Regions from separate parts of the Homo sapiens genome. Here region 1 is reported to be linked to region 2. The links are microRNA targets in miRTarBase. Many come from high-throughput screens and were not tested one by one. Region 2 holds a microRNA gene; the other region holds the end of a gene's coding sequence.
Evidence for each region. The annotated mature microRNA hsa-miR-5682 reads GUAGCACCUUGCAGGAUAAGGU and lies in region 2 at 6,523-6,544, shown strand. An mRNA with a match to its seed (bases 2 to 7 or 8) in the 3' UTR can be bound and repressed. Matches are read on the target gene's strand: a 7mer-m8 pairs with bases 2 to 8, a 7mer-A1 pairs with bases 2 to 7 and ends in A, and an 8mer does both.

Region 1 (15,655 bases), not on the chromosome of region 2:
GTCATTTAAGGACTTCTCTACACTGTTTTTTCTAGTTAGTCATTCATCCAATCTTTTTTCAAGGTTTTTAGCTTGTTTGTGATGGGTTCGAACATCCTCCTTTAACTTGGAGAAGCTTGTTATTACTGATCATCTGAAGCCTTCTTCTCTCAACTCGTCAATTCATTCTCTGTCCAGCTTTGTTCCATTGCTGGTGAGGAGCTGCATTCCTTTGGAGGAGAAGAGTCGCTCTGATTTTTAAAATTTTCAGCTATTCTGCTCTGGTTTCCCCCCATCTTTGTGGTTTTATCTACCTTTGGTGTTTGATGATGGTGATGTACAGATGAGGTTTTGGTGTGGATGTCCTTTCTGTTTGTTAGTTTTCCTTCTAACAGTCAGGACCCTCAGCTGCAGGTCTGTTGGAGTTTGCTGGAGGTCCACTCCAGACCCTGTTTGCCTGGGTATCACCAGGAGAGGCTGTAGAACTGCAGATACTGCAGAACAGCAAATGTTGCTGCCTGATCGTTTCTCTGAAAGCTTCATCTCAGAGGGGCACCCAGCTGTATGAGTTGTCAGTTGGCCCCTACTGGGCGGTGCCTCCCAGTTAGGCTTCTCGGGGGTCAGGGACCCACTTGAGGAGGCAGTCTGTCCATTCTCAGATCTCAGACTCCATGCTGGCAGAACCACTACTCTCTTCAAAGCTGTCAGACAGGGATGTTTAAGTCTGCAGAAGTTTCTGCTGCCTTTTGTTGAGCTATGCCCTGCCCCCAGAAGTGGAATCTACAGAGGCAGGCAGGCCTCCTTGAGCTGTGGTGGGCTCCACCCAATTCGAGCTTTCCAGCCGCTTTGTTTACCTACTCAAGCTTCAGCAATAGCAGGCGCCCATCCCCCAGCCTCACTGCTGCCTTGCCATTCAATCTCAGACTGCTGTGCTAGCAGTGAGCAAAGCTCCGTGGGCGTGGGACCCTCCCAGCCATGCATGGGATATAATCTCCTGGTGTGCCATTTGCTAAGACTGTTGGAAAAGCACAGTATTAGGGTGGGAGTGACCCGATTTTCCAGGTGCCGTCTGTCACGGCTTCCCTTGGCTAGGAAAGGGAATTATCTGACCCCTCGCGCTTCCCAGGTGAGGCGGTGCCCCACCCTGTTTCGGCTCCCGGTCCGTGGCCTGCACCCACTGTCCTGCACCCACTGTCTGACAAGCCCCAGTGAGATGAACCTGGTACCTCAGTTGGAAATGCAGAAATCACCTGTCTTCTGCATCACTCATGCTGGGAGCTATAGACTGGAGGTGTTCCTATTTGGCCATCTTGGAAACTCCCCCTAAACCTCTTTTCTTTATAAATTACCCAGTCTCTCAGGTAGTTCTTCATAGAAATGTGAGATCAGACTAATATAGTGTCTTTGCTGTATTTGGGGTGTTAGGACTCTCCGTTCTGTTTGACTATTTTTCCATACTTAGGTCAACAACACATTGTCTTGACTACTGAAGTTTGAAATCGGGTAGCAAAGGTTATCTAGCTTTGCTATTGTTTTTCAAGATTATTTTGCCTTTCCACATGCTTTGTATTTTTACATAAATGTTAGAACTAGCTTGTCAATTTAGAATTAGCTTATCAAGGAAGTTTGCTGATATTTTGACTGGGATTTCATTGAATATAAAGATCAATCTGTGGCGAGATTAATTCTTAAGAGTATTGAATCTATCCACTGACTTAAGAAAAGCTTTTGATGAAAATATAATTTCTTTTAATATTTGTCAGTGAGATAAGGTTGAACATAATTAAGATTTTCATTAACTTCAACAAGTCATGTCACTAGTTTATAATGTGTGCTTCATTATAGCAGTGTCTAAGCTTTGGTGAATATTATATTCCTGAATCCTAGTCTGGCTTTCTTAACTCCCTAGAAGATGTGCCAGAACCACAGTGCTAACCTTTTCCCAATAAAATTGTTTTTAGGAGCTCTTGAAACAACATCAAAGTGACACCTTGCAATTAGAAGAGCTGAGAAAAACCAAAGAGGTAAGCTTTTTCATCCTTTCCTGTGGACTTGGTATATTACAAATACACCAATAAAATAACAAGCTGTCAGTATAATGGAATCAATGATAATTTCCCCAAAGCCAATAAGAAATGGAAGACCTAAAGCTGAGTTTACTGGATTCAATAAGTTAAAAAGAATTTTTGAAATTATCTGTAAAATAAAGCCAGTGGGTCTTTTTAAAGTCTGATTTGAACAAATAGATCAGCAATATACTATGTGATCTTCAATGTTGAATGACTTTCATTTCTAGCAAGGTTCAAACCACAAATGATCTTTCAGTTATAAAACACCAAGTTCTTCCCTTTGAGCTCTGAAAAGTATAAAACTGTCTCCTTTGAAACTCTGTCACCAAGCCCCTCCTTAAGCTCTGAATGTACCTCACACATGATAACTTCCTCAGGGACTCTATTCTGGGGCAAATTATGGCAGTCTGTGGGAGACAACTGAAGAGGAGCCGTTCAAATCCACAAGGTGATGTGTGATTCTTCCATCACTGAAAATTTGACTTGGATCCAGAATGGACACGTTTGAGAAAACATTAGTCATTATAAAGGCATTGTAAATGAATTCTATCTTAGAGCCCAGGCAGGGCTTCAGCATTATGGAAAGGCAAACAGACTGTGGTGTCCTACAAGTTCAAGAAATGGGCTTTGGAGGAAGATATACCCAGTGTATTATAATAACTATTTTCATGAGCTTGTCTACGAATTCTGTCATTTGTGTCATGTCTGGGCCTGTTTCTCTTCATTGATTTTTCTCCTCATTTATGGTCATATTTCCTTGTTTGCATGCCTGGTAAGTTTGGCTTGGATGTCAGTCATTTTGGTGTTTACCTTGTTGGGTGCTGAATATTTTTATATTCCTTTAGATATTCTTAAGCTTTGCCCTGGGATGCAGTTAAGTTGCCTGGAAACAGTTTGATCCTTTCAAGCCTTGCTTTTTAAGCTTCGTTGGGCAGAACTAAAGCAGTCTTTAGTGTGGAACTAATTTTCCCCACTATTGAGGTAATACCCTCTGAGTACTTGACACCACACCCTCTGTATGAGAAGGATTTTCTACTCTGCCTGGTGGGACCATGAACTATTCCCAGCCTTGTGTTGGCCCTGGGGATTGTTCCACCTGCTCCTTGCTGATGTTTCCTTCCTCTAACCTTGTCTCTTTCTATTTCTTCCCTACATCACTCCACCCCAGAGGCACTTGCCTCCTTGCTGTTCCCTTAACAGGCCAGGATGTTCCTACCTGGGGGTCTTTGATGTTCTCTCTTCCTGAAAAGCTCTTTCCCGGATATCCACATGACTAACTTCCTTTCCTCCTCCTGTTCTTTATTCAAATGCCACCTTCTCAGAAGGTGCCCGATTTAAGGGCTCCGCTCCCTGCCCAACACTTGCTTTTCTCCAAATGGGATGCCACTGGAGGTTTTTGAGGAGAGAGTATCATTTGGGAAAATAACTGTGGCAGCAATGTGAAGGAGAATCTGAAGAGGCAAAATGATGGGAGGCAGAACCTATTAGAAGGGTCACCTCCCCTTTACACCTCAACCTGACTTCTGCTCCAATCCCAGCCATGGAAACTGTTCTTGTTAAAATCACAAGTAAATTCCGAGTTGCCAAATCCAAGGAATGCTTCACCTCACTGGACATGAGCAGTATCAGGTGCGATTGATCATTCTCTCCTTGCAACATTCACCTGTCTTAGCTTTCATGGGCTTCTGGTGTTTCCTTCACCTCATTGGTCACACCTTCTCAATCTCCTTTACTAGAACTAGAACTCTGCTTAAAACCCTTCAATGGCACCCCACTGTTCTCCCACCTACTTTCTAAGTCCTGGAGTATTTTGAGGCTTGTTCCCAGGCCCCACTTATCTTCTTTATCTCCCGTTTCTCCTTTGGTGAGCTCATCTGTTCACACAGATGTAAAAGCCATCTCTGTACTGATAACTTGGTTTGATACCTCCAGCCTTGCCTCTCTCCTGAGCTCCAGGCTTGTACATCCAACTGCCCATTTGACATTTCAACATAGGTGACATACAGACACCTCAAAATTAACATGCCCAGTTCCACACTCTCAATTTTCCACCAGAGATTTAGCCCCCAAATTGTCAACTCCCTCAGCTGTTCTAAGCCTAGACCTGAAGTCATCCTTGATTTCTTCTTTCCTTTCACTCTCCCAAATTCAACCCAGCAGCCTCAGCCAATCCTCTATAACATAATCCAAATTCATCCACGTCCCTCCAACTCTGTTGTCACCTTACCCTAGTCCATTATTTCTCACCTACACGACTGTAGTATTCTCCTCCTTAGTTCCGTTGCTTTCCCTCTTGCCCTTCCAATCCATCCCCATGGAGCATAATGTAAACAGTAAGATACGTGCATTCACTTCTCTGCTTAAAACCCTTCAGTAGGTCCCCATTGTTCTTAGGTTACCTTGTCCTCTCAGGTGCCACCAGACTTCCCTGTATTTCCTCACCATGGCCCTCTATCCTTACTATCTCTATTCCAGCCATATTGGTGTTCCTTTGGGTCCTCAAACAGAATGAGAATTTTGCATTTTTTTTATTATACTGTAAGTTTTAGGGTACATGTGCATAATGTACAGGTTTGTTACATATGTATACATGTGCCATGTTGGTGTGCTGCACCCAGTAACTCGTCATTTAACATTAGGTATATCTCCTAATGCTATCCCTCCCCCCTCCCCCCACCCCACAACAGGCCCCGGTGTGTGATGTTCCCCTTCCTGTGTCCATGTGTTCTCATTGTTCAATTCCCACCTCTGAGCAAGAACATGTGGTGTTTGGTTTTTTGTCCTTGCCATAGTTTGCTCAGAATGATGGTTTCCAGCTTCATCCATGTCCCTACCAAGGACATGAGCTCATCATTTTTTATGGCTGCATAGTATTCCATGGTATATATGTGCCACATTTTCTTAATCCAGTCTATCATTGTTCGACATTTGGGTTGGTTCCAAGTCTTTGCTATTGTGAGTAGTGCCGCAATAAACATACGTGTGCATGTGTCTTTATAGCAGCATGATTTATAATCCTTTGGGTATATACCCAGTAATGGGATGGCTGGGCCAAATGGGATTTCTAGTTCTAGATCCCTGAGGAATCGCCACACTGACTTCCACAATGGTTGAACTAGTTTACAGTCCCACCAACAGTGTAAAAGTGTTCCTGTTTCTCCACATCCTCTCCAGCACCTGTTGTTTCCTGACTTTTTAATGATCGCCATTCTAACTGGTGTGAGATGGTATCTCATTGTGGTTTGATTTGCATTTCTCTGATGGCCAGTGATGATGAACATTTTTTCATGTGTCTTTTGGCTGCATAAATGTCTTCTTTTGAGAAGTGTCTGTTCATATCCTTTGCCCACTTGTTCATGGGGTTGTTTGTTTTTTTCTTGTAAATTTGTTTGAGTTCATTGTAGATTCTGGAATATTAACCCTTTGTCAGATGAGTAGGTTGCAAAAATTTTCTCTCATTCTGTAGGTTGCTTGTTCACTCTGATGGTAGTTTCTTTTGCTGTGCAAAAGCTCTTTAGTTTAATTAGATCCCATTTGCCAATTTAGGCTTTTGTTGCCATTGCTTTTGGTGTTTTAGACATGAAGTCCTTGCCCATGCCTATGTCCTGAATGGTATTGCCTAGATTTTCTTCTAGGGTTTTTATGGTTTTAGGTCTAACATTTAAGTCTTTAATCCATCTTGAATTAATTTTTGTATAAGGTGTAAGGAAGGGATCCAGTTTCAGCTTTCTACATATGACTAGCCAGTTTTCCAAGCACCATTTATTAAATAAGGAATCCTTTCCCCATTTCTTGTTTTTGTCAGATTTGTCAAAGATCAGATAGTGTAGATATATGGCATTATTTCTGAGGGCTCTGTTCTGTTCCATTGGTCTATATCTCTGTTTTGGTACCAGTACCATGCTGTTTTGGTTACTGTAGACTTGTAGTATAGTTTGAAGTCAGGTAGCGAGATGCCTCCAGCTTTGTTCTTTGGCTTAGGATTGACTTGGCAATGCGGGCTCTTTTTTGGTTCCAGATGAACTTTAAAGTAGTTTTTTCCAATTCTGTGAAGAAAATCATTGGTAGCTTGATGGGGATGGCATTGAATCTATAAATTACCTTGAGCATTATGGCCATTTTCACGATGTTGATTCTTCCTATCCATGAGCATGGAATGTTCTTCCATTTGTTTGTATCCTCTTTTATTTCGTTGAGCAGTGGTCAACGAAGAGGTCCTTCACATCCCTTGTGAGTTGGATTCCTAGGTATTTTATTCTCTTTGAAGCAATTGTGAATGGGAGTTCACTCATGATTTGGCTCTCTGTTTGTCTGTTATTGGTGTATAGGAATGCTTGTGATTTTTGCACATTGATTTTGTATCCTGAGACTTTGCTGAAGTTGCTTATCAGCTTAAGGAGATTTTGGGCAGAGATGATGGGGTTTTCTAGATATACAATCATGTCATCTGCAAACAGGGACAATTTGACTTCCTCTTTTCCTAATTGAATACCCTTTATTTCCTTCTCCTGCCTCATTGCCCTGGCCAGAACTTCCAACACTATGTTGAATGGGAGTGGTGAGAGAGGGCATCCCTGTCTTTTGCCAGTTTTCAAAGGGAATGCTTCCAGTTTTTGCCCATTCAGTATGATATTGGCTGTGGGTTTGTCATAGATAGCTCTTATTATTTTGAGATTCGTCCCACCAATACCTAATTTATTGAGAGTTTTTAGCATGAACGGTTTTCGAATTTTGTTGAAGGCCTTTTCTGCATCTATTGAGATAATCATGTGGTTTTTGTCATTGGTTCGGTTTATATGCTGGATTACATTTATTGATTTGCGTATGTTGAACCAGCCTTGCATCCCAGGGATGAAGCCCACTTGATCATGGTGGATAAGCTTTTTGATGTGCTGCTATATTTGGTTTGCCAGTATTTTATTGAGGATTTTTGCATCGATGTTCATCAGGGATATTGGTCTAAAATTCTCTTTTTTTGTTGTGTCTCTGCCAGGCTTTGGTATCAGGATGATGCTGGCCTCATAAAATGAGTTAGGGAGGATTCCCTCTTTTTCTATTGATTGCAATAGTTTCAAAGGAATGGTACCAGCTCCTCCTTGTACCTCTGGTAGAATTCGGCTGTGAATCCATCTGGTCCTGGACTTTTTTTGGTTAGTAAGCTATTAATTATTGCCTCAATTTCAGAGCCTGTTATTGGTCTATTCAGGGATTCAACTTCTTCCTGGTTTAGTCTTGGGAGTGTGTATGTGTCCAGGAATTTATCCATTTCTTCTAGATTTTCTAGTTTATTTGCATAGAGGTGTTTATAGTACTCTCTGATGGTAGTTTGTAGTTCTGTGGGATCGGTGGTGATATCCCCTTTATCGTTTTTTTTTGCGTCTATTTGATTCTTCTCTCTTTTCTTCTTTATTAGTCTTGCTAGCATTCTATTAATTTTGTTGATCTTTTCAAAAAACCAGCTCCTGGATTCATTGATTTTTTGAAGGGTTTTTTGTGTCTCTATCTCCTTCAGTTCTGCTCTGATCTTAGTTATTTCTTGCCTTCTGCTAGCTTTTGAATGTGTTTGCTCTTGCTTCTCTAGTTCTTTTAATTGTGATGTTAGGGTGTCAATTTTAGATCTTTCCTGCTTTCTCTTGTGGGCATTTAGTGCCATAAATTTCCCCTACACACTGCTTTAAATGTGTCCCAGAGATTCTGGTATGTTGTGTCTTTGTTCTCATTGGTTTTGAAGAACATCTTTATTTCTGCCTTCATTTCATTATGTACCCAGTAGTCATTCAGGAGCAGGTTGTTCAGTTTCCATGTAGTTGTGTGGTTTTGAGTGAGTTTCTTAATCTTGAGTTCTAGTTTGATTGCACTGTGGTCTGAGAGACGGTTTGTTGTGATTTCTGTTCTTTTACATTTGCTGAGGAGTGCTTTACTTCCAACTATGTGGTCAATTTTGGAATATGTGCGATGTGGTGCTGAGAAGAATGTATATTCTGTTCATTTGGGGTGGAGAGTTCTGTAGATGTCTATTAGGTCTGCTTGGTGCAGAGCTGAGTTCAATTCCTGGATATCCTTGTTAACTTTCTGTCTCGTGGAGCTGTCTAATGTTGACAGTGGGGTGTTAAAGTCTCCCATTATTATTGTGTGGGAGTCTAAGTCTTTTTGTAGGTCTCTAAGGACTTACTTTATGAATCTGGCTGCTCCTGTATTGGGTGCATATATATTTAGGATAGTTAGCTCTTCTTGTTGAATTAATCCCTTTACCATTATATAATGGCCTTCTTTGTCTCTTTTGATCTTTGTTAATTGAAAGTCTGTTTTATCAGAGACTAGTATTGCAACCCCTGCCTTTTTTTGTTTTCCATTTGCTTGGTAGATCTTCCTCCATCCCTTTATTTTGAGCCTCTGTGTGTCTCTGCATGTAAGGTGGGTTTCCTGAATACAGCACACTGATGGGTCTTGACTATCCAATTTGCCAGTCTGTGTCTTTTAATTGGAGCATTTAGCCCATTTACATTTAAGGTTAATATTGTTATGTGTGAATTTGATCCTGTCATTCTGATGTTAGCTGGTTATTTTGCTCGTTAGTTGATGCAGTTTCTTCCTAGCCTCGATGGTCTTTACAATTTGACATGTTTTTGCAGTGGCTGGTACCGGTTGTTCCTTTCCATGTTTAGTGTTTCCTTCAGGAGCTCTTTTAAGGCAGGCCTGGTGTGACCAAATCTCTCAGCATTTGCTTGTCTGTAAAGTATTTTATTTCTCCTTCAATCATGAAGCTTAGTTTGACTGGATATGAAATTCTGGGTTGAAAATTCTTTTCTTTAAGAATGTTGAATATTGGCCCTCACTCTCTTCTGGCTTGTAGAGTTTCTGCTGACAGATCTGCTGTTAGTCTGATGGGCTTCCCTTTGTGGGTAACCCGAGCTTTCTCTCTGGCTGCCCTTAACATTTTTTCCTTCATTTCAATTTTGGTGAATCTGACAGTTATGTGTCTTGGAGTTGCTCTTCTCGAGGAGTATCTTTATGCTGTTCTCTGTATTTCCTGAATCTGATTGTTGGCCTGCCTTGCTCGGTTGGGGAAGTTCTCCTGGATAATATCCTGCAGAGTGTTTTCCAACTTGGTTCCATTCTCCCTGTCACTTTCAGGTACACCAATCAGACGTAGATTTGGTCTTTTCACATAGTCCCATATTTCTTGGAGGCTTTGTTCATTTCTTCTTATTCTTTTTTTTCTAAACTTCTCTTCTTGCTTCATTTCATTCATTTGATCTTCCATCACTGATACCCTTTCTTCCAGTTGATCGAATCGGCTACTGAGGCTTGTGCATTTGTCACATACTTCTTGTGCCATGGTTTTCAGCTCCATCAGGTCCTTTAAGGACTTCTCTGCATTGGTTATTCTAGTTAGCCATTCGTCTAATCTTTTTTCAAGGTTTTTAACTTCTTGGCCATGAGTTCGAACTTTCTCCTTTAGCTCGGAGTAGTTTGATCATCTGAAGCCTTCTTCTCTCAACTCGTCAAAGTCATTCTCCATCCAGCTTTGTTCTGTTGCTGGCGAGGAGCTGCATTCCTTTGGAGGAGGAGAGGCACTCTGATTTTTAGAATTTTCAGTTTTTCTGCTCTGTTTTTTCCCCATCTTTGTGGTTTTATCTACCTTTGGTCTTTGATGACAGTGACGTACAGATGGGGTTTTGGTGTGGATATCCTTTCTGTTTGTTAGTTTTCCTTCTAACAGTCAGGACCCTCAGCTGCAGGTCTGTTGGAGTTTGCTGGAGGTCCACTCTAGACCCTGTTTGCCTGGGTATCAGCAGCGGAGGCTGCAGAACAGCAGATATTGGTGAACAGCAAATGTTGCTGTCTGATTGTTCCTCTGAAAGTTTTGTCTCAGAGGAGTACCCAGCCGTGTGATGTGTCAGTCTGCCCCTACTGGGGGGTGCCTCCCAGTTAGGCTACTCAGGGGTCAGGGACCCACTTGAGGAGGCAGTCTGTCCATTCTCAGATCTCAAGCTGCGTGCTGGGAGAACCATTACTCTCTTCAAGCTGTCAGACAGGGACATTTAAGTCTGCAGAGGTTTCTGCTGCCTTTTGTTTGGTTATGCCTGCCCCCAGAGGTGGAGTCTACAGAGGCAGGCAGGCCTCCTTGAGCTGCGGTGGGCTCCACCCAGTTCGAGCTTCCTGGCCACTTTGTTTACCTACTCAATCCTCAGCAATGGTGGGCGCCCCTCCACCAGCCTCACTGCCACCTCGCAGTTTGATCTCAGACTGCTGTGCTAGCAATGAGCAAGGCTCCGTGGGCGTAGGACCTTATGAGCCAGGCATGGGATACAATCTTCTGGTGTGCCGTTTGCTAAGACTGTTGGAAAATGCAGTATTAGGGTGGGAGTGACCTGATTTTCCAGGTGCCATCTGTCACCCCTTTCCTTGGCTAGGAAAGGGAATTCCCTGACCCCTTGCACTTCCCGGATGATGTGATGCCTCGCCCTGCTTCGGCTCATGCTCAGTGCACTGCACCCACTGTACTGCACCCACTGTCTGACAATCCCCAGTGAGATGAACACGATACCTCAGTTGGAAATGCAGAAATCATACGTCTTCTGCATCGCTCACGCTGGGAGCTGTAGACTGGAGCTGTTCCTATTCGGCTGTCTTGGCTCCACCCCTGAGCATTTTGCATTCTAAGGACCTTTGCACAGGCTTCTATTCATTCTTTAGTGGAAGTTTGTGTGTTTGTTTCAAGAAGCTACTTTTTAGAGCAGTTTTAGGTTTACAGAAAAATTGAGCAGAAAGTACAGAGAGTTCCCATATACTACCCCACCCCACCCTACCCCACCACTAGTTTCCTTTATTATTAGTATCTTGCATTGGGATGGCACATTAGTTGCAATTGATGAGCCAATGTGGATGCATTCTTATTAACTAAAGTCCATAGTTTACATGAGGGTTCTCTCTTTGTGTTGTACATTCTGTGGGTTTTGCCTAATATGTCATGTCATGTATCCACCATTATAGTGTCATACAGAATAGTTTCACTGCTCTAAAAGTGCCCTCTATCCCACCTATTCATCCCTCCCTTCCCCTCCAAATCCCTAGAAACCACTAATCTTTTTTCTCTCTCTATAGTTTTGCCTTTTCCAGAGTGTCATATAATTGGAATCGGTAGTAGGTATTTAATAAAGACTTGCTTAGTGAATGAATAACTGATTGCCATTAGAACCATTCATATGAGCTCTGGTGAGGCTGAAGAGAAGGATATAGATGGGTGAGACAGAGAGGAGGCAGGACTGACAGGGTGTGAGTGGCCATGAGTGATGCAAAAGTAGCTCAGGTTGCTCCCTTTCATCATAGTCCAGGTGCCCTGGAGAAGAGACCAAATAAATAGACATTGGCATGATGTCCTGCAACAGCTTCTTCTTATGCAGGTCATGCAGGAAGAATTGCATGCACAAGCCCTTATCCTAGAGTCACTGAACACAAACCTCTACTATACCCAGTTGGAACTCCAGAAAGAGGTGAGTCCCTACTGGAGTGGGGATGGGGGTTGGGGGAAGAACCCAGGTCTCCATCCAGCTCTGCCATATAGCTCTGCCCTGGATGGCTCTGGGTTGGGGAAGATGGCTATTAAAATGTATGTCTTTCAGAAAGCTATAGTGGGAAATCTGGAGAAAATGCTTCAAACCAAGTTTGCTGAAACTGAAGAAAAGTATAAGCACACCATACAGATCCTGACGGAAGAGAACATTCATCTGAAGTGCGGCTGCTGCTGAAAAAGACATAGCTGAGTTCTCTTTAGGAGTGGGAAGGAGTTTGAGTGAGGAATGGGTTAGGAAGATAGACCAACTGCTCCCTAGTTATGTCAAGGCACAGGTGTTTTCGGGAGGGAGGTATGTCACTCTAGGCCAGTGACACAAAGCCAGATAGTTCACTTGAGGTGGAGTGGAGATGTGTCTATACTTCTCCCATTCACCTGTGTCCTTGTTTCTATGCAAAACAACACAGGACATTTGTCTTCCAGTTTCTGAGTTTGCTCAGTTCTATGACTGAGGGTGGTTTTTAAATCCATCTCCCCTGGGAGTCTGATGGTCTTGCCATTACATGCAGCTGCTTCTGGTTCCTATGGAAATCACCTTTGGATCAGAAGGTGTACTGTTACCTGAAGCTGCATCTTAAATCATTAAAATAAATTTTGGTCAATACTTTAATAGAAGAAAGTTATTTATTGCATTGATTTAGTAGAAAATTCCTCGTATAGGACTTTAGTCACCTGAACACCATACCTCACTAAATTCAAAACCACTGCAAGTAATGAGTGAGAGACTGCTGTGGTGAAGGAACGAAGGCACATTTCTCTCCCTGCACTCCAAATATCCTATACCCTTTCTAGCTTTTGAGTTGACATTGATACATCTTTCCTTTCTTTTTACAGGCAAAAGATAATTTCTAAGAATGAAGAAATTTGTGAAGGATGTTCTGGGAGATTGGCCTCTATTACTGTTTCTAAGGATGATTCTGACACTGTGCAAGATGGTAGCAAGAAAGGACAAGAATCATAAACAAAAAGTTGCTCTGCATTGTTGAAGATGGTTGGCACACCATTTCTGTAGGCCCAGGAAACTCCTGGGAGGGTTTTCTTGAGAAAATGCATATAATGAGTTTAGTTCTTGGGTTGCTCTGACTCTCTGAATGTCTGAAAATGTTTGAATTCGCATCTGAATTTCACAGCTTATCACGGACTCTTCACTGAAAAATGATGCTCTCCATACTGGGAGCTGAGCTTTCTCTGAGTTTTGTACTATTTTTCTTCTACCTTGACGTATTTCGTTAGAAAGAAACTGATTTGAAGGCCTTCTTCATATTGAACTTTTACTATATTTGGGAGGTGTACCTTTGTCCCCTGGGGCATTTAGGTAGCAAAAAAAGATGATGTGTTGATTTTACTCTAAAATATTTTTCTCTCACACCCATGCCCCCTACTTCCCTACCTCTCAATCATGTTCCCTAACCTATGACTTAGGAAGGGTTTCTGATGATTCTTACCACCTCCTCTGGACCATCACCAGAATTCAGACACCCACAGTGCAGGCAACATAAATAAGTGAAGTGGGCTAGACATAAGGAAAACAATTGCCCAAGCACAGTGATAAGTGGCAACCAACAGCAGCCTCAGTAGAGGGGCTTGGGCAGGGCTGGGGCACAGCGGATGGGGAAGAGTGACCCACAGAGCACTGTCCCATCTGAAGAAGGTGCTTCTCAGACCTTTGCCATGCAAAAGCATGAGGTCAATATTGTCAGATAGTATGATTTTTTAAAAGAAGTTATTCTGGTTTTTATGTGATATCTCCTAATTTTTAAACATTGACAACAAATTTTAAAAATACAACTGTGTGTGCCGATCATGGGAGACTCAAGTAGAACATGTCTGTAGTCCAGATGTTTTCCACCTGTGAGATGTCATTGGCAGAAACCAAAACCAAACACAAAAAATCTCCAAGGAGCAATAAGATCAAATTATATTTTATTCTATTAAAAAATGTTTTTGAAAAAAGATACTTAAATTTTAAAGATAACTTAATTCCTAATGATTTAAAATAATCCAAGCAGAGATGAAAGAGCAAATGCAAATGCATAAAAAGACCCCAGAGCATTGTTAGCAAAAAGCAAATATAGTTAGCCAAGCATATATATATCATAAAAGCAATAAGAAGGCATAAAGCAAGTTTGGGGAGAGCTTATTTAAAACTTGTAAAAATCATTTGAATTTTTAAAAGATTTCAAACAAATTTTGTTTTATTAAAAAAAAAATTTTTTTTGAGACGGGGTCTTGTTCTGTCACCCAAGCTTGAGTGCAGCGGTGTGAACATGGCTCACTGCAGCCTTGACCTCTTGGGTTCAAGCAATCCTCCCACCTCAACCTCCCAAAGTGCTGGGATTATAGACATGAGCCACCATACGTGGCTACTTTCTAATTTTTTTAATGTGGTAGTGTGGAATTTAGCTTTGAAAGAGAATTAAAGTTAATAGAATATTAACAGTGGGCTTATAGTTGATAGATAACAATCTGAATCATAAGCCCTCTATATTCATAGCTGGATTTTGTACGTGTCTGGTATTTATTGCCACCAGCTAAAAACATTCCCAAAGCCTTAAGCATAAGAGAAAGGAGACAGTGTTATTGTTGTTAATATCCTATTTAACTTTAGCTCTTATAAAAAAGTGCAAAACAATTAATAAAGTAGAAAATCTAGAAAATTAGTAAATAAACATAGTGTTATATCTAAATAGTACCATCGGCCAGGCGCGGTGGCTCACGCCTGTAATCCCAGCACTTTGGGAGGCCGAGGTGGGTGGATCACGAGGTCAGGAGATCAAGACCACCCTGGCTAACACAGTGAAACCCTGTCTCTACTAAAAATATTTTTAAAAAATTAGCCAGGTGTGGTGGCGGGCCCCTGTAGTCCCAGCTACTCGGGAGGCTGAGGCAGGAGAATGGCCTGAACCCGGGAGGCGGAGCTTGCGGTGAGCCGAGATCACGCCACTGCACTCCAGCCTGGGCGACAGAGCGAGATTCTGTCTCAAAAAAACAAAACAAAACAAAACAAACAAAATAGCACCATCAATCAGAAGGGAAGACAAGTTTTTTTCTTAGTGTGAAAGTAGGCTGAGGCATCTGTTTCCCCATGTTTTTCTTGTCATCCTTGTTGCTTACTTCATAGTTCACTTCAGTCAGGATGGTGAGAATATCATCGCCTCTGAAATACATCACATAATATTGTGACTGTCTGTGGGGGAAAGCAACTGATGAACTGTCTCCTCTGCTGTGCTCAGAGATAGTTCTGTAGTTCTTTCTCTCAAAATATCAGTCATTTGAAACAATAAGGTGCGAAACCAAGACCTACCCCAGCTTTCCTGGTAAATGGGTTGTCTCAGAGCTTAATAACTTACTTTTGGTTTATTCAGGAACTCTTTTGACCATCAGAAACCTCGGTGTCAGTATTAGAGTTGGTTTCTTTCTCTCCTGACCTGTGTGTCTCTCACTCTTCTCCACGTTACTTGGCTCCCCATTGCTTCAATGCCCCCCAATACTCTCTGCCTCGAATTGACATCGCATCTGCGGATTCATCTTTGATGCAATTAAACTTAAGGCAAGTGAAAGTATAACGTCTCCTGCAGCTACTCCCACCTTCTTCTCACCAGGATCTCTTAGCATTTTTGTTAGGCAACCTCTTCTTCTACCTTGGTAGCTAGCCGCGGAAACCTTGCAGGATTCATGATCTAAGTTACGAAATCTAAGTTAGATTCATGATCTAAGTTACGGGAAATTCTCACTCTTCATATACTCAAAACATGAAATACAGGGCTAGAAGGAACCTGCTATTTATCTCCCATAATGCACCAAGAGGTTTTGAGGATGGTTTGCTATTATAGAACTTTTGACAGAGTTGGAGGATGTTTAAACATTGAATTGGGTTACTGCCTTCTTGGAAGATTTCCAAAACTAGTTGAATTGGCTCAGTCATGTTTTGGCCTAAAGACAGAGAGCTGGAGTATATGACTTTCCTATCCTTTCCTGCTCTGTGATACCCTGATTGTCCTTTGAGGTGCTGAATAAAGGAATAAAGCAT
Region 2 (16,549 bases):
GTACCTCACACAAAGCTGCTGTATCTTTTCCCAAACTTCCCAGTTTCTGACCTGACTGGTTTTTCTATTCTTAGTTTTAAGCATTTTCACAGATCTTTATAGTGCTTTTGGTAGGTTCACTTTGTTTTTATAAATGAACCTAGACACTGTGGTGTTCTGCTTACTTTCATGTGTCTGTCTCTGTTGGTGCTGTTATGCTTAGTGGTACCGTTCACTTCTCTCCGATGATAAGTCACATCTCAGTTTTATCACAGAATTAAGAATACTGGCCGGGCGCGGTGGCTCACGCCTGTAATCCTAGCACTTTGGGAAGTTAAGGTGGGTGGATCACGAGGTCAAGAGATCAAGACCATCCTGGCCAACATGGTGAAACCCCGTCTCTACTAAAATTACAAAAATTAGTTGGACGTGGTTGCACACACCTGTAGTCCCAGCTACTCAGGAGGCTGAGGCAGAAGAATTGCTTGAACTTGGGAGGCAGAGGTTGCAGTGAGCTAAGATCGCACCACTGCACTCCAGCCTGGCAACAGAGCGAGACTCCATCTCAAAAACAAACAAACAAACAAAAAAAGAATACTGAGTTCCTCACTAGAATTATTTAGGTATTACTGTAAGATATTATTGAATATATGCTACTTTAATAACATTGCCTTTGGCATGTTTTATCTTCTGTATAGCATGTAACTATCTCTTGTAGAGAATGTTTTATTGTTGTTACATATCATGTTCTATCCTCACCCCATCTCAGGTGAACTTCCACCTCTCTGAGAAATGAGACCAGTATACTGTATTCAAAAAAATCAAGTGTAACTCATCAAATGCTTCCAAGGAATCCTAATAAATTTCTCGTTTGTTTATAGGAAGCATAAGTACAGTATACAAATAAAACAGGCAAACAAACACAAAAATTATCAAGGCTTATATATAGAATACCTCCTATTTCATTGAAGGAAATTATCTGAGTTCATGTTAAGATGTATATATCAATATATACATCTTTGAACATGTATGTATGTAATTAGATATAAATGTGCAAATCATACAAATTTCTAAATATTTTCTTGGATATGATCTTTGATTATGTTTCTATTTTTATAAAGCCATTCCTCTCTGAGACTAAAATCACAGGTACCAAATATAAAGAGACCTATCATAGGATACATGAGCATTTTTTTGGCTTAGAAATTATTATAGAAGGGCATTTAGATTCCTATCTTCTCTCTTCTAATTCCTAAAGAAGAAATAAATGCTAGCAATTTCAATATCGTTCTTCCTAGCATCTAAATGGGATATCTGTGATTGATACTGTAAACTATGAGAGATTACTTCTAACAAAGTACTTTGGAAAATATAAAAAGCCTTTTAGGTATCTCTGGACAACCAAGGTTCTGAAAGATCACTCTTAGAGAACACATTTAATGCTCTGGATTTAGGATCTGTGAATGGGTAAGCATCGACATTTTCAGCTGGTTAGCTGTCATTATGGTAAAAGTTCTAACATTTTAAAATGATCTGATTTAACCCAGTCAAATAAATAGTTTAAGCATATATACAAAGTCATACAAACAGTTATTATCTGTCCACATGCTTTCTGCCACATTAAGAGGTAGAAAATATCCTATTGTATGCGAAATAGGATTCATTTGTATTTGGTGGTGCTGTATAAAAGGAATCTTAGTATAATTTTATAGTTATACTAAATTCTAGTTGGAGAAATGTTTTCTTTTATTATGGATATTTCCTTTATAATTGATGAAGCTTCTTGGACTATAAGAAGCAAATTAAATTATACCAAATATACTTTTTAGGAAGAATATACGCTTTCCAAATATACAGAAAATTCTTGCAAAGGAGAATTTTTATATGACCTGTATTCAATTTTGTAAGACTGCATTGAATATTTTCTTCTCTGTAAGGCTATATAGTATATGTGTAAACAGTAGAAACAAAAACCATCCCTAAACTATTTTTTCCCAAAGAAAAACCTTTAATGGCCATAACAGTGCTATAATAATTAATCCTCTCTATTGGTAAATAAATATTCCTTAAGCTAGTCTCCCTGACCGTTGAAATGCAGTGGGTCAGTTGCCTCTTCTACTTTCAGCATTCTTACCCTTCCTGATTGAAGTTTATGCACCTATCCTTCCTTATATTTCTGAGATAACAAAAGTAACTCTTCAGGTAGTAAACATTGAGTAAATTAGCTTGTTTGTGATTAAAAAAACCCTAAATTAAGTAAATCACACACTTACTTTATCTTCTTTTTGTTCTAGGGTGCCTTGGTCAGTGCAAGTTCAGATGATACACTTCATTTGTGGAACCTTAGACAAAAAAGGCCAGCCATACTCCATTCTCTTAAATTTAACCGGGAACGGTAAGAACCTATGAATTAAACAATTTCTTAATGTACAACAAAATTATTTCCTGAGCAAGTTTTTGTTAACTTGACAGGCTTTTTTCCTCATAATCTCAACAGCTAGAAATAATTTAATGTTTATGCTTACTTTCATAGTGTTTTCTTTTTTGTAGAAAATGCGTAATTGATATAGATCCAGTCACCTACTAATGCAGTGTTTATTAGCTTAAGGAGCTTTTGGGCTGAGATTATGGGGTTTTCTATGTGTAGACTCATATTATCTTCAAAGAGAGATAATTTGACTTCCTTTCTTCCTATTAATATTTACAGGCCTTTTATTTCTTTCTCTTGCATGATTGCTCTGCCTAGGACTTCCAGTCTATGTTGACTAGGAATGGTGAGAGATGGCATCCTTGTCTTGTTTTGGTTTTCAAGGGGAATGCTTCCAGGTTTTGCCCATTCAGTATGATGTTGGCTGTGAGTTTGTCATAGATGGCTCTTCTTATTTTGAAATATGTTCCTTTAATGTCTAGTTTGTTGAGGGGTTTTAACATGAAGGACATCGAATTGTACCAGAAGACTTTTCTGCATCTATTGAGATAGTCATGTGGTTTTTGTTTTCAGTTCTGTTTATGTAGTAGATCGCATTTATGTATTTGTGATTATTGAACCAACCTTGCATCCTGGGATAAAGCCTGCTTGAGTGTGGTTGATTAGCTTTTTCACGTGCTGCAGGATTCAGTTTGCTAGTATTTTGTTGAGAATTTTTACATCTGTGTTCATCAAGGATATTGGCCTGAAGATTTTTTTGTTGTATTTCTGCCAGGTTTTGGTATCAGGATGAAGCTGGCCTCATAGAATCAGTTGGAGAGGAGTTCCTCCTCCTCAATTTTTTGGAGTAGTTTCAGTTAGAATGGTACAAGCTATTCTTTATGCATCTGGTGGAATTTGGCTGTGAATCATTCTTGTCCTGGGTCCTTTATGGTTGGTAGGCTTTTTATTACTGATTTAATTTTGGAACTCTTTATTGGTCTGTCCAGGGATTCAATTTCTCCCTGGCTCAATCTTGGGAGTTTGTATGTTTCCAGGAATGTATTCATTTATTTTAGGTTTTCTAGTCTATGTGCATAGAGGTGTTCATAGCAGTCTCTGAGGGTTTTTTATATTTCTGTGGGGTTGGTGGTAATGTCTTTTTTGGCATTTATGATTGTTTATTTGGATCTTCTCTCTTTTTCTCTTTATTAGCCTAGCTAGTGGTCTATCATATTTCTTATGTCAAAAAACCAACTCTTGTACTCATTGATCTTTTGTATGGTTTTTTTGCCTCTTAGTTTCCTTCATTTCAGCTCTGATTTTAGTTATTTCTTGTCTTTTGCTAGCTTTGGGTTTGTTTTGTATTGTTTCTCTAGTTCCTCTAGGTGTAATGTTAGGTTGCTAATTTGAGATTTTATGAATTTTTGATGTGGACCTTTAGCACTATAAACTTTCCTCTTAGCACTACTTTAGCTGTGTCCTAGAGATTCTGGTATGTTTTCTTGGTTCTCAGTAGTTCCAGAGAATTTCTTGATGTCTGCCATAATTTCATTGTTTACCCAAAAGTCATTCAGGACCAGGTTGTTTAATTTCCATCCAATTGTATGGTTTTGAGCGATTTTCTTAGTATTGATTTTTATTTTTATTGCATTATGGCCTGAGAGTGTGGTTGGTATGGTTTCATTTTTTTTAGATTTTCTGAGGATTGTTTTATGTCCAATTGTGTGGTTGATTTTAGAGTATGTGCTATGTACAGATAAGAAGATGGTATATTCTGTTCCTTTTGGGTAGGGCATTTTGTAGATGTCTAATAGTTCCATTTGGTGAAGTGTTAAGTTTAGATCCTGAAAATCTTTGTTAATTTTCTGACTGGATGGTCTATCTAAAAACTGTCAGTAGGGTGTTGAAGTCTCCCACTATTATTGTGTGGGAATCTAAGTCTCTTTGTAGGTCTCTAAGAACTCGCTTTATGAATCCGGGTACTCCTGTGTTGGGTGCATATATATTTAGGATAGTTAGGCATTCTTGTTGAATTGAACCCTTTACCATTACGTAATGTCCTTCCTTGTCTTTTTTGATCTTTGTTAGCTTAAAGTATGTTTTGTCTGAAATAACAACCCCTGCTTTTTTCTGACTGCCATTTGCTTGGTAGATTTTCCTCTATCCCTTTACTTTGAGCCTATGGGTGTCATTACATGTGAGATGGGTCTCTTGAAGACAGCATACCATTCAGTCCTGCTTCTTTATACAGCTTGCCACTCTGTGCCTTTTAATTGGAGCATTTAGCCAATTTACATTCAAGTTTAATATTTATGTGTGTGGATTTGATCCTTTCATCATGTTTCTAGCTGGCTATTGTGCATACTTGTTTGTGTGGTTGCTTTATAGGGTCAACAGTTTGTATACTTAAGTGTCTTTTTGTAGTAGCTTATAACAGTCTTTGCTTTCCATATTTAGCACTCCTTTCAGGACCTCTTGTAAGGCAGGTCTGGTGGTCATAAATTCCCTTAGCATTTGCTTATCGGGAAAGAATCTAATTTCTCCTAGGTTTATGAAGCTTAGTTTGGCTGGATATGAAATTCTTGCTTGGAAATTGTTTTATTTAGTAAGGCTGAATATAGACCCCCAATTTCTTCTGGCTTGTAAGGTTTCTATTGAAAGGTCCTCTGTTAGCCTGATGGGGTTTCCTTTGTAGGTGACATGCCCCTTCTCTCCAGTTGCCTTTCACTTTTTCCCTTTTCTTTCAGCCTTGGAGAATCTAATTATGTGTCTTGGCCATGGTCTTTTTGTGTAGTATCTCACGCTGGTTCTCTGCATTTCCTGAATTTGTATTTTGGCCTCTCTAGTGAGGCTGGGGACGTTTTCATGGGTGATATTCTGAAATATATTTTCCAAGTTGCTTGCTCTCTCCTTATCTCTTGCAGGGATACTAATGAATTGGAGATTTGGTCTCTTTACATAATCCTTTATTTTTTGAGTGTTTTGTTCATTTTCTTTCTCTGACTGAGTTAGTTCAGAGAACCAGTCATTGAGCTCTCAGATTCTTTCCTGAACTTGGTCTATTCTTCTGTTAATACTTGCAATTACATTATGAAATTCTTGTAGTGTGTTTTCCACTCTATCAGATCAGTTAGAGTCTTTTTTTTTTTTTTTAAGACAGAGTCTTGCTCTATTGCCCAGGCTGGAGTGCAGTGGCACAATCTTGGCTCACTGCAACCTCCGCCTCCCTGGTTTGAGCGATTATCCTGCCTCAGCCTCCTGAGTAGCTGGGACTACAGGTGCTGGGAGCCCAGGTCAAGAGGCACTGCCCAGTGAAGAGTAGTGGAGGCATGTGGACAAGTCTGGCTGCTTTTCCATAAAGTGGCTGTGTTGTGCTAGAGGTTTGTATCGGTCCCCAACCACTATATGTCCTCTCAATCCCAAGGGCAACAGGAGCAAGGGCTGCAGGGCAGCAAAAATGGTGGCCTGCTTGCTCCTTCTGTGAGCTCTGTCCCAGAAAAGCACAGAGCTGCTACTAGCCTGAGAGCCTAGGTAGGGGGTGGCTAGAGACCCCGGTAGGGAGACACTGCCCAGAGAACCATAGCAGGGTTGGGGACCCATGTAGAAAACAGTCTGCTGCTTTTCTGTAAGGTGGCTGCACTGTGCTAGGGGTTCATGGTAGTCCCTAATCACTGTGTACCCTCCTGATCTTGAGGGCATCAGTGGGGAAGGTTGTAGGGCAACAAACATGGTGGCCTGCCTTTCCCACTGAGAGCTCTGTCCCAGGGAAGTGGAGAGCTGGTAGTGGCCTAAGAGTCCAGTGTGGGGTGGTTGAGGTTCTAGGTCAGGAGGCCTTGCTCAGTGAGAAGTAGCAGGGGTGGGGGCTCCTGTGTAAAACAATCTGGCTACTTTTCCTTAAGGTGGCTGCCTTTTACTGAGTGTCTACGATTGCCCCTAATCACTGAGTACACTCCCCAGCCTGAGGGCAAACAGGAGGGAGGGTTGTGGATGTGGTCTGCCTCTCCCTCTAGAAGCTTGTCCCAGAAAAGCACAGAGCTGCTCCTGATCCGAGAATTCTGGTAGGGCTGTGGTGGTCTCACTAGTGTCCCAGGCCCATGGGTCTTATCCTGCAAGGTGCTGCAGAGACGAGGCCTGTAGCACCTTGCAGGATAAGGTCTACTGGGCCTAGTTACTCTTCAGCCACATGGATTCAGCCCCTTTCCTGGAGACGTGAGGGAGCCTGGCCTCCTCCATTGCTAGAGCTGCATCTGCTGGTGTTGAGGTGCCTGGGGATCCAGCACTCCTGGGAGTCTGTGAGTACCTGAGTGATGGCTCTGCCAAGACTCCACATAACTCTTTGCATGTTTGTCTGGAAGCCCTGGTTGCAGGGATCATGAGAAATCTCCTGATCCTGAGTCCAAGGATGCAAAGGTCCATGACAGAAGTGTGAATCCCTGGGGACTCTCACTCACTCACTGTTCCCTGTGATGTGAGGACTCCTCTGGCTCCATGCCACTTCTGGGTGGGCAATTGTCCTGTCTTGCTCTTCTCTGTTCACTGTGGGTGATGCTGTTTCCCTGATAAATCCCCATGTTTCCACCTGGATGTTCTGGTTGAAGAGCTAGTGTCCATTCACCACTGTTTCTTCTCTCCATGAGAGTGGTGCTTATTACCCACTTCTACTCAGCTATCTCACGCCAAATCTCTAAACTTAGTCTTTTTTTTTAAGAGGAAAGGAATTTATATTTTAGAAATTTGTTGAAACTAGATAGGACTTATTTCTTTAGTCCTAATTCTGGTTATTTTAGTTTAAAATAAGTAATGTAGCAGAAATTTCAAGGATATCAAAAAACTTTAAGATCAGTAAAGAGTTGTTCAGAAGAGAGTGGGGGCCAATATTCAACATTCTTAAAGAAAAGAATTTTCAACCCAGAATTTCATATCCAGCCAAACTAAGCTTCATAATTGAAGGAGAAATAAAATACTTTACAGACAAGCAAATGCTGAGAGATTTTGTCACCACCAGGCCTGCCCTAAAAGAGCTCCTGAAGGAAGCACTAAACATGGAAAGGAACAACCGGTACCAGCCACTGCAAAAATATGCCAAAATGTAAAGACCATCAAGGCTAGGAAGAAACTGCATCAACTAACGAGCAAAATAACCAGCTAACATCATAATGACAGGACCAAATACACACATAACAATATTAACTTTCAATATAAATGGACTAAATGCTCCAATTAAAAGACACAGACTGGCAAATTGGATAAAGAGTCAAGACCTATCAGTGTGCTGTATTCAGGAAACCCATCTCATGTGCAGAGACACACATAGGCTCAAAATAAAGGGATGGAGGAAGATCTACCAAGCAAATGGAAAACAAAAAAAAGCAGGGGTTGCAATCCTAGTCTCTGATAAAACAGACTTTAAACCAACAAAGATCAAAAGAGAAAAAGAAGGCCATTACATAATGGTAAAGGGATCAATTCAACAAGAAGAGCTAACTATCCTAAATATATATGCACCCAATACAGGAGCACCCAGATTCATAAAGGAAGTCCTGAGTGACCTACAAAGAGACTTAGACTCCCACACAATAATAATGGGAGACTTTAACACCCCACTGTCAACATTAGACAGATCAACGAGACAGAAAGTTAACAAGGATACCCAGGAATTGTACTCAGCTCTGCACCAAGCAGACCTAATAGACATCTACAGAACTCTCCACCCCAAATCAACAGAATATACATTTTTTTTCAGCACCACACCACACCTATTCCAAAATTGACCACATAGTTGGAAGTAAAGCTCTCCTCAGCAAATGTAAAAGAACAGAAATTATAACAAACTGTCTCTCAGACAACAGTGCAATCAAACTAGAAGTCAGGATTAAGAAACTCACTCAAAACCGCTCAACTACATGGAAACTGAACAACCTGCTCCTGAATGACTACTGGGTACGTGACGAAAAGAAGACAGAAATAAAGATGTTCTTTGAAACCAACGAAAACAAAGACACAACATACCAGAATCTCTGGGACACATTCAAAGCAGTGTGTAGAGGGAAATTTATAGCACTAAATGCCCACAAGAGAAAGCAGGAAAGATCCAAAATTCACACCCTAACATCAAAATTAATAGAACTAGAGAAGCAAGAGGAAACACATTCAAAAGCTAGCAGAAGGCAAGAAATAACTAAAATCAGAGCAGAACTGAAGGAAATAGAGACACAAAAAAACCCTTCAAAAAATTAATGAAGCCAGGAGCTGGTTTTTCAAAAAGATCAACAAAATTGATAGACCGCTAGCAAGACTAGTAAAGAAGAAAAGAGAGAAGAATCAAATAGATGCAATAAAAAATGATAAAGGGGATATCACCACCGATCCCACAGAAATACCATCAGAGAATATTACAAACACCTCTATGGAAATAAACTAGAAAATCTAGAAGAAATGGATAAATTCCTGGACACATACACCCTCCCAAGACTAAACCAGGGAGACGTTGAATATCTGAATAGACCAATAAGAGGTTCTGAAATTGTGGCAATAATCAATAGCTTACCAACCAAAAACAGTCCAGGACCAGATGGATTCACAACCGAATTCTACCCGAGGTACAAGGAGGAGCTGGTACCATTCCTTCTGAAACTATTCCAATCAATAGAAAAAGAGGGAATCCTCCCTAACTCATTTTATGAGGCCCGCATCATCCTGGCATCCAGGCTTTGATACCAAAGCCTGGCAGAGACATAACCAAAAAAGAGAATTTAAGACCAATATCCCTGATGAACATCGATGCAAAAATCCTCAATAAAATACTGGCAAACAGAATCCAGCAGCACATCAAAAAGCTTATCCACCATGATCAAGTGGGCTTCATCCCTGGGATGGAAGGCTGGTTCAATATACGCAAATCAATAAATGTAATCCAGCATATAAACAGAACCAAAGGCAAAAACCACATGATTATCTCAATAGATGCATAAAAGGCCTTTGACAAAATTCAACAACCCTTCATGCTAAAAACTCTCAACAAATTAGGTATTGATGGGACATATCTCAAAATAATAAGAGCTATCTATGACAAACCCACAGTCAATATCATATTGAATGGGCAAAAACTGGAAGCATTCCCTTTGAAAACTGGCACAAGACAGGGATGCCCTCTCTCACCACTCCTATTCAACATAGTGTTGGAAGTTCTGGCCAGGGCAATCAGGCAGGAGAAGGAAATAAAGGGTATTCAATTAGGAAAAGAGAAAGTCAAATTGTCCCTGTTTGCAGATGACATGATTGTGTATCTAGAAAACCCCATTGTCTCAGCCCAAAATCTCCTTAAGCTGATAAGCAACTTCAGCAAAGTCTCAGGATGCAAAATCAATGTACAAAAATCACAAGCATTCTTATACACAAATAACAGACAAACAGAGAGCCAAATCATGAGTGAACTCCCATTCACAATTGCTTCAAAGAGAATAAAATACCTTGGAATCCACCTTACAGGGACGTGAAGGACCTCTTCAAGGAGAACTACAAACCACTGCTCAAGGAAATAGAGGATACAAACAAATGGAAGAACATTCCATGCTCATGGGTAGGAAGAATCAATATCGTGAAAATGGCCATATTGCCCAAGATAATTTATAGATTCAATGCCATCCCCATCAAACTACCAATGGCTTTCTTCACAGAATTGGAAAAAACTACTTTAAAGTTCATATGGAGCCAAAAAAATCCCCCATTGCCAAGTCAATCCTAAGCCAAAAGAACAAAGTCGGAGGCATCACACTCCCTGATTTCAAACTATACTACAAGGCTACAGTAACCAAAACAGCATGGTACTGGTACCAAAACAGAGATATAGATCAATGGAACAGAACAGAGCCCTCAGAAATAATTCTGCATATCTACAACCATCTGATCTTTGCCAAACCTGACAAAAACAAGAAATGGGGAAAGGATTCCCTATTTAATAAATGGTGCTGGGAAAACTGGCTAGACATGTGTAGAAAGCTGAATTTGGATCCCTTACACCTTATACAAAAATTAATTCAAGATGGATTAAAGACTTAAATGTTAGACCTAAAACCATAAAAACCCTAGAAGAAAACCTAGGCAATACCATTCAGGACATAGGCATGGGCAAGGACTTCATGTCTAAAGCACCAAAAGCAATGACAACAAAAGCCAAAATTGACAAATGGCATCTAATTAAACTAAAGAGCTTCTGCACAGCAAAAGAAACTACCATCAGAGTGAACAGGCAACCTACAAAATGGGAGAAAATTTTCGCAACCTACTCATCTGACAAAGGGCTAATATCCAGAATCTACAATGAACTCAAACAAATTTACAAGAAAAAAAAACAAACAACCCCATCAAAAAGTGGGCAAAGGATATGAACAGACACTTCTCAAAAGAAGACATTTATGCAGCCAAAAGACACATGAAAAAATGCTCATCATCACTGGCCATCAGAGAAATGCAAATCAAAACCACAATGAGATACCATCTCACACCCGTTAGAATGGCAATCATTAAAAAGTCAGGAAACAACAGGTGCTGGAGAGGATGTGGAGAAATAGGAACACTTTTACACGGTTGGTGGGACTGTAATCTAGTTCAACCATTGTGGAAGTCAGTGTGGCGATTCCTCAGGGATCTAGAACTAGAAATACCATTTGACCCAGCCATCCCATTACTGGGTATATACCCAAAGGATTATAAATCATGCTGCTATAAAGACACATGTGCACGAATGTTTATTGTGGCACTATTCACAATAGCAAAGACTTGGAACCAACCCAAATGTCCAACAACGATAGACTGGATGAAGAAAATGTGGCACATATACACCATGGAATACTATGCAGCCATAAAAAGGATGAGTTCATGTCCTTTGTAGGGACATGGATTAAACTGGAAACCATCATCTCAGCAAACTATCACAAGGACAAGAAAGCAAACACCGCATGTTCTCATTCACAGGTGGGAATTGAACAATGAGAACACATGGACACAGGAAGGGGAACATCACACTCCAGGGCCTGTTGTGGGGTGGGGGGAGGGGGGAGGGATAGCATTAGGAGATATACCTAATGGTAAATGACGAGTTAATGGGTGCAGCACACCAACATGGCATATGTATACATATGTAACAAACCTGCACATTGTGCACATGTACCGTAAAACTTAAAGTATAATAATAATAAAATTTTAAAAAGAGTTGTTTTACTGTTTCTTTTTCTTTACCAGTAAAATATTAACCTATTTAGATCACCATATTGATTTTATCTTTCTCTCTGTTTGTAAGATTTTTCTTCTAATACTTTGAATAGATCTGACTGTATACTTTTATGTGGATGGACAGAGTGTTTTTATTTCCCCTCACAATTGGAATGTTGAAGGCAATGTTCTGGCCCCTTTTATGGACTTTTTGGGAGGAAGAATTGATTAGTGGTGATGATTTCCAATAGTGATTTTATTATCTCAACTGAGTTAGATTAATTGGTAGAAACATAAAAGAGCAAGCTGACAGATTTGAGATAAGTTTTAATCACAGGAAGTTTGAAAATGTTTTAATGCTTACATTAAAGATAAATGTGATATTTATCTCTTAAGAAAGATACATACATATTGTCATGTAACATGAGAATATTCATTATGATCATAACTTATTGGAGGAGATAAAATTATCTATCGAAGTATGGTGAATGGGAGGTTCAGGTCCTATAGGAGAATTTAACCAAGCATCTTTTGGGACATTCTCCAAAACATCTGATATTAGCCGTTTAATTCTGTAAATTTTCTAAGTACTCTTATGTTTATGCTAAATGTGTTTCAGTTTATAAATTTATACTATAAATTTTAGCTTATTTTATTAGGGCACCTACAGTCTTTAGTCTTACAATTTTTGAAGGCAGAATCCAGCCTTAGATTGTTAAGTAATAGGCTTTCATTATTATTATTACTATTATTGGAGTATTATTATTGGAGACAGGGTCCTGCTCTGTCTCCCAGGCTGGAGTGCAATGGTGTGATCCTAGCTCACTGCAGCCTCAAACTCCTGGGCTCAAGCAATCCTCCCGCCTCAGCCTCCTTAGTGCTGGGACTATGGGCATGTGCTACCATACCCAGCTATTTTTTTTTTAAAGTAGAGATGGTTTCTTACTATGCTTTTTTTGAGACAGGGTCTCACTCTGTCACCTAAGCTGGAGTACAGTAGCATCAGCTTGGCTCACACAACCTTGAATTCCTGGGCTACAGCAGTCCTCCCACCTTAGCCTCCTGAGGTGTGCACTATGATGCCTGACTAATGTTAATTTTTTTTTTTTTTTTGTAGAAACAGATTCTCTCCATGTTGCCCAGGCTGATTTCAAATTCCTGGGCTCAAGCAATCCTCCCACCTTAGCCTCCCAAAGTGCTGGGATTAGAGGCATGAGCCACTGTGCTTGGCCTGGGGTCTCACTGTGTTGCCTAGGCTAGACTTGAACTACTGGGCTCAAGCTATCCTCCTGCCTTGGCCTTACAAAGTATTAGGATTACAAGTATGAACCTTTGCATCTGGTAAGGCTTATATATTAAAGCCTTTCTGGTGGATGATCCTTGGACTTCTTACAAATACGATTTTAAACCTAAATAGGGAAGAAAAAATGTCTTGATTTTTGTAATGCATGATCTGAGTAATGAATAAAATAAAACATTCATATTTTAGGCATAGCAGTCCTTGCTATCACAATCATAAATTTATGTAATACTGGAGAAAGCATAGAGTTGTTTTATATGGCTTTTGAGTGAAATTCAAATGTAGGCTACGATATACAGACCCTTAAATTATCTGTACTTATTATGTATATTTAATTTTTCTTACTCTAGTGTTCTGCTACTTACTATCAGAGAATTTCTGAAAACTATTAACTAAACTGGAAGGAAGCAATATTTTGTTGAAAACTCCATAATTTATGAAATCTCTGGCAAACTGGATCCATCTGAATTGGCTTTTGCAGACCCAATTTATAACCCACATTTAAAATATTTTATAAAGGCAATTTGAACTGGCTTTGATTCTTTTCAAAGTGTTGCATAACTAATATATTTACTGGGTTTGACATTCAAAAGGTACAACAGTGTATGCAATAAAGGATCTTTCTTCTATTCCTGTCCCCTGGACACTTACTTACTTCCCCTCAGCAGAGCTAAACAGTGTAATTAATTTGTTTTTTCTTTATAGACGTTCATTACATACATATATAAGCAAATATAATATGTAACATAATTTTCTTTCTTATATGTACATAAGCCAAATAGAAAACCATATATTTTTACATATATCATATATAGAGAGAATATCATATTTTTTTGTTAAACAAATTAGCAAGACCTTTAAACAAATTAGCAAGGTCTTTATAATATATTATAAAGAGGGAAAAAAGCGAGACAAAATATACATATATATTTATATATATTTTATTACACACAATATATTGTTAAACAAATTAGCAAGATCTTTAGAATATATTATAAAGAAGGAAGAAAGCAAGACAGAAAACTGCATAACATGCTACATAACAATGAAAATAAATAAACTACAGTTAAATGCAACATGGATGAAACTCATAAATACAGTGCTGAGCAAAAGAAGCCGAAAGAAAACTTCATATATATTATTCCATTTTTGTATGCGTCAAAAAACAGGCAAAATTAATGCTACATGTTAATGTAGCATGTTATACAGTTTTGTGTCTTGCTTTTTTCCCTCTATAGTATATTCTAAAGGATCACTCTTTATATAGACTTTCCCTATTTCTTTGTTTGTTTGTAAATTTTACTGAATCATCAGGAAACTGTTTAAATCTTAAGTGTACACCTTGAAATAACTTTGCCGTTGTGTAACAAACACCTAAATCAAGATACAGAAAATTACTAGATTCATAGAAACTCCCCTATGTTACCTTCCAGTCACTTACCCCCAGGTATCCTAATTTCCAACTCTATAGATTAATTTTGCCTGTTTTTGACACATATAAAAATGGAATAATATATATATAGTTCTTTGCTTTTGGATTCCTTTGCTCAGCACTGTATTTATGAGTTCCATCCATGTGGCATTTAGCTGTAGTTTATTTATTTTCATTATTATGTACTATTCTATTTAATGGATATTCTGCAATTTGATTAACCATTCTATTTTAGTTCTCTTTCTTAAACTTAACTTTTGCATTTCTATTTTTTATAACATTTCTTTAGAAAATATATCAATAATTTGGTATAATAATAAAAATTTTTAAATTCTTTTTATATCTCTTTTTTCTATCTCTCATTCTCTGTCTCTCACTCTATCTTCCAAATACATACTATAGCCTGACTCATCATATTGTTTTCTGTCTCCCAAGTAGCATAACACCTTGCTCTTTTATTTATGTTTTTTGTTGTTGTTGTTTTTTAAAAATTTTTTATTATACTTAAAGTTTTGGGATACATGTGCAGAAAGTGCAGGTTTGTTACATAGGTATACAAGTGCCATGGTGGTTTGCTGCACTCATCAATCCGTCATCTACATTAGGTATTTCTTGTAATGCTATCCCTCCCCTACACCCCCATCACCCAACAGGACCAGTGTGTGATATTCCCCTCCCTGTGTCCATGTGTTCTCATTGTTCGCCTCCCACTTATGAGTGAGAATATGCGGTGTTTGGTTTTCTGTTCTTGTGTTAGTTTGCTGAGAATCGTGGTTTCCAGCTTCATCCATGTCCCTGCAAAAGACATGAACTAATCCTTTTCTATGGCTGCATAGGAGTCCATGGTGTACATGTGCCACATTTACTTTATCCAGTCTATCACTGATGGGCATTTGGGTTGGTTGCAAGTCTTTGCTACTGTGAACAGTGCTGCAAAAAGCATGCATGTGCATGTGTCTTTATAGTAGAATAATTTCTAATCCTTTGGTTATATACCCAGTAATGGGATGGCTGGGTCAAATGGTATTTCTGATTCTAGATCCTTGAAGAATCGCCACAGTCTCTTCCACAATGGCTGAACTAATTTACACTCCCACCAACAGTGTAAAAGTGTTCCTATTTCTCCAAATCCTCTCCAGCATCTGTTGTTTCCTGACTTTTTAATCATAGCCATTCTAACTGGCGTGAGATGGTATCTCATTGTGGTTTTGATTTGCATTTCTCTAATGACCAGTGATGATGAGCTGTTTTTCATATGTTTGTTGGCTACATAAATGTCTTCTTTTGAGGAGTGTCTGTTCATATCCTTTGCCCACTTTTTGATGGGGTTGTTTTTTTCTTGTAAATTTGTTTAAGTTCTTTGTAGATTCTGGATATTAGCCTTTGTCAAATGGATAGATTGCAAAAAATGTTCTCCCATTCTGTGGGTTGCCTGTTCACTCTGATGATAGTTTCTTTTGCTGTGCAGAATCTCTTTAGTTTAATTAGATCCCATTTGTCAATTTTGCCTTTTGTTTCCATTGCTTTTGGTGTTTTAGTCATGAAGTCTTTGCCCATGCCTATGTCCTGAACAGTATTGCCTAGATTTTCTTCTAGAGTTTTTATGATTTTAGGTCTTACGTTTAAGTCTTCAATCCATCTTGAGTTAATCTTTGTATAAGGTGTAAGGAAGGGGTCCAGTTTCAGTTTTCAGGATGTGGCTAGCCAGTTTTCCCAACACCATTTATTAAATAGAGAATCCTTTCCTTATTGCTTGTTTTAGTCAGGTTTGTCAAAGATCAGATGGTTGTAGATGTGTGGTGTTATTTCTGAGGCCTCTGTTGTGTTCCATAGGTCTGTATATCTGTTTTGTTACCAGTACCATGGTGTTTTCATTACTGTAGCCTTGTAGTATAGCTTGAAGTCAGGTAGCATGGTGCCTCCAGCTTTGTTCTTTTTGCTTAGGATTGTCGTGGCTATGTGGGTTCTTGTTTGGTTCTATATGAAATTTAAAGTAGTTTTTTTTCTAATTCTGTGAAGAATGTCAGTGGTAGCTTGATGGGGATAGCATTGAATCTACAAATTACTTTGGTCAGTATGGCCATTTTCACCATACTGATTCTTCCTATCCATGAGCATGGAATGTTTTTCCGTTTGTTTGTGTCCTCTCTTATTTCCTTGAGCAGTGGTTTGTAGCTCTCCTCGAAGAGGTCCTTCACATCCCTTGTAAGCTGTATTC

Region 1: miRTarBase lists CASP8 as a target of hsa-miR-5682. Seed matches in the 3' UTR shown: 7mer-m8 at 14,639-14,645.

What each region holds. Positions count from the first base shown.
Region 1 is chr2:201,285,586-201,301,240 of GRCh38, reverse strand. CASP8 (caspase 8) reads right to left here. Exons shown (of 9, transcript NM_001372051.1): 9 at 13,532-14,782. The coding sequence ends at 14,647. FLACC1 (flagellum associated containing coiled-coil domains 1) reads left to right here. Exons shown (of 15, transcript NM_001127391.3): 12 at 1,941-2,003; 13 at 11,456-11,545; 14 at 11,675-11,784; 15 at 12,460-12,970. The coding sequence ends at 12,586. Among named protein-coding and RNA genes, the nearest start is that of CASP8, 33 kb to the right of the region's middle. RefSeq lists a cis regulatory region at 12,739 and an enhancer at 12,667-12,811.
Region 2 is chr3:121,043,162-121,059,710 of GRCh38, forward strand. MIR5682 (microRNA 5682) reads left to right here and starts at 6,479; the gene lies at 6,479-6,554. It overlaps STXBP5L (syntaxin binding protein 5L), which reads left to right. Exons shown (of 27, transcript NM_001308330.2): 5 at 2,274-2,374.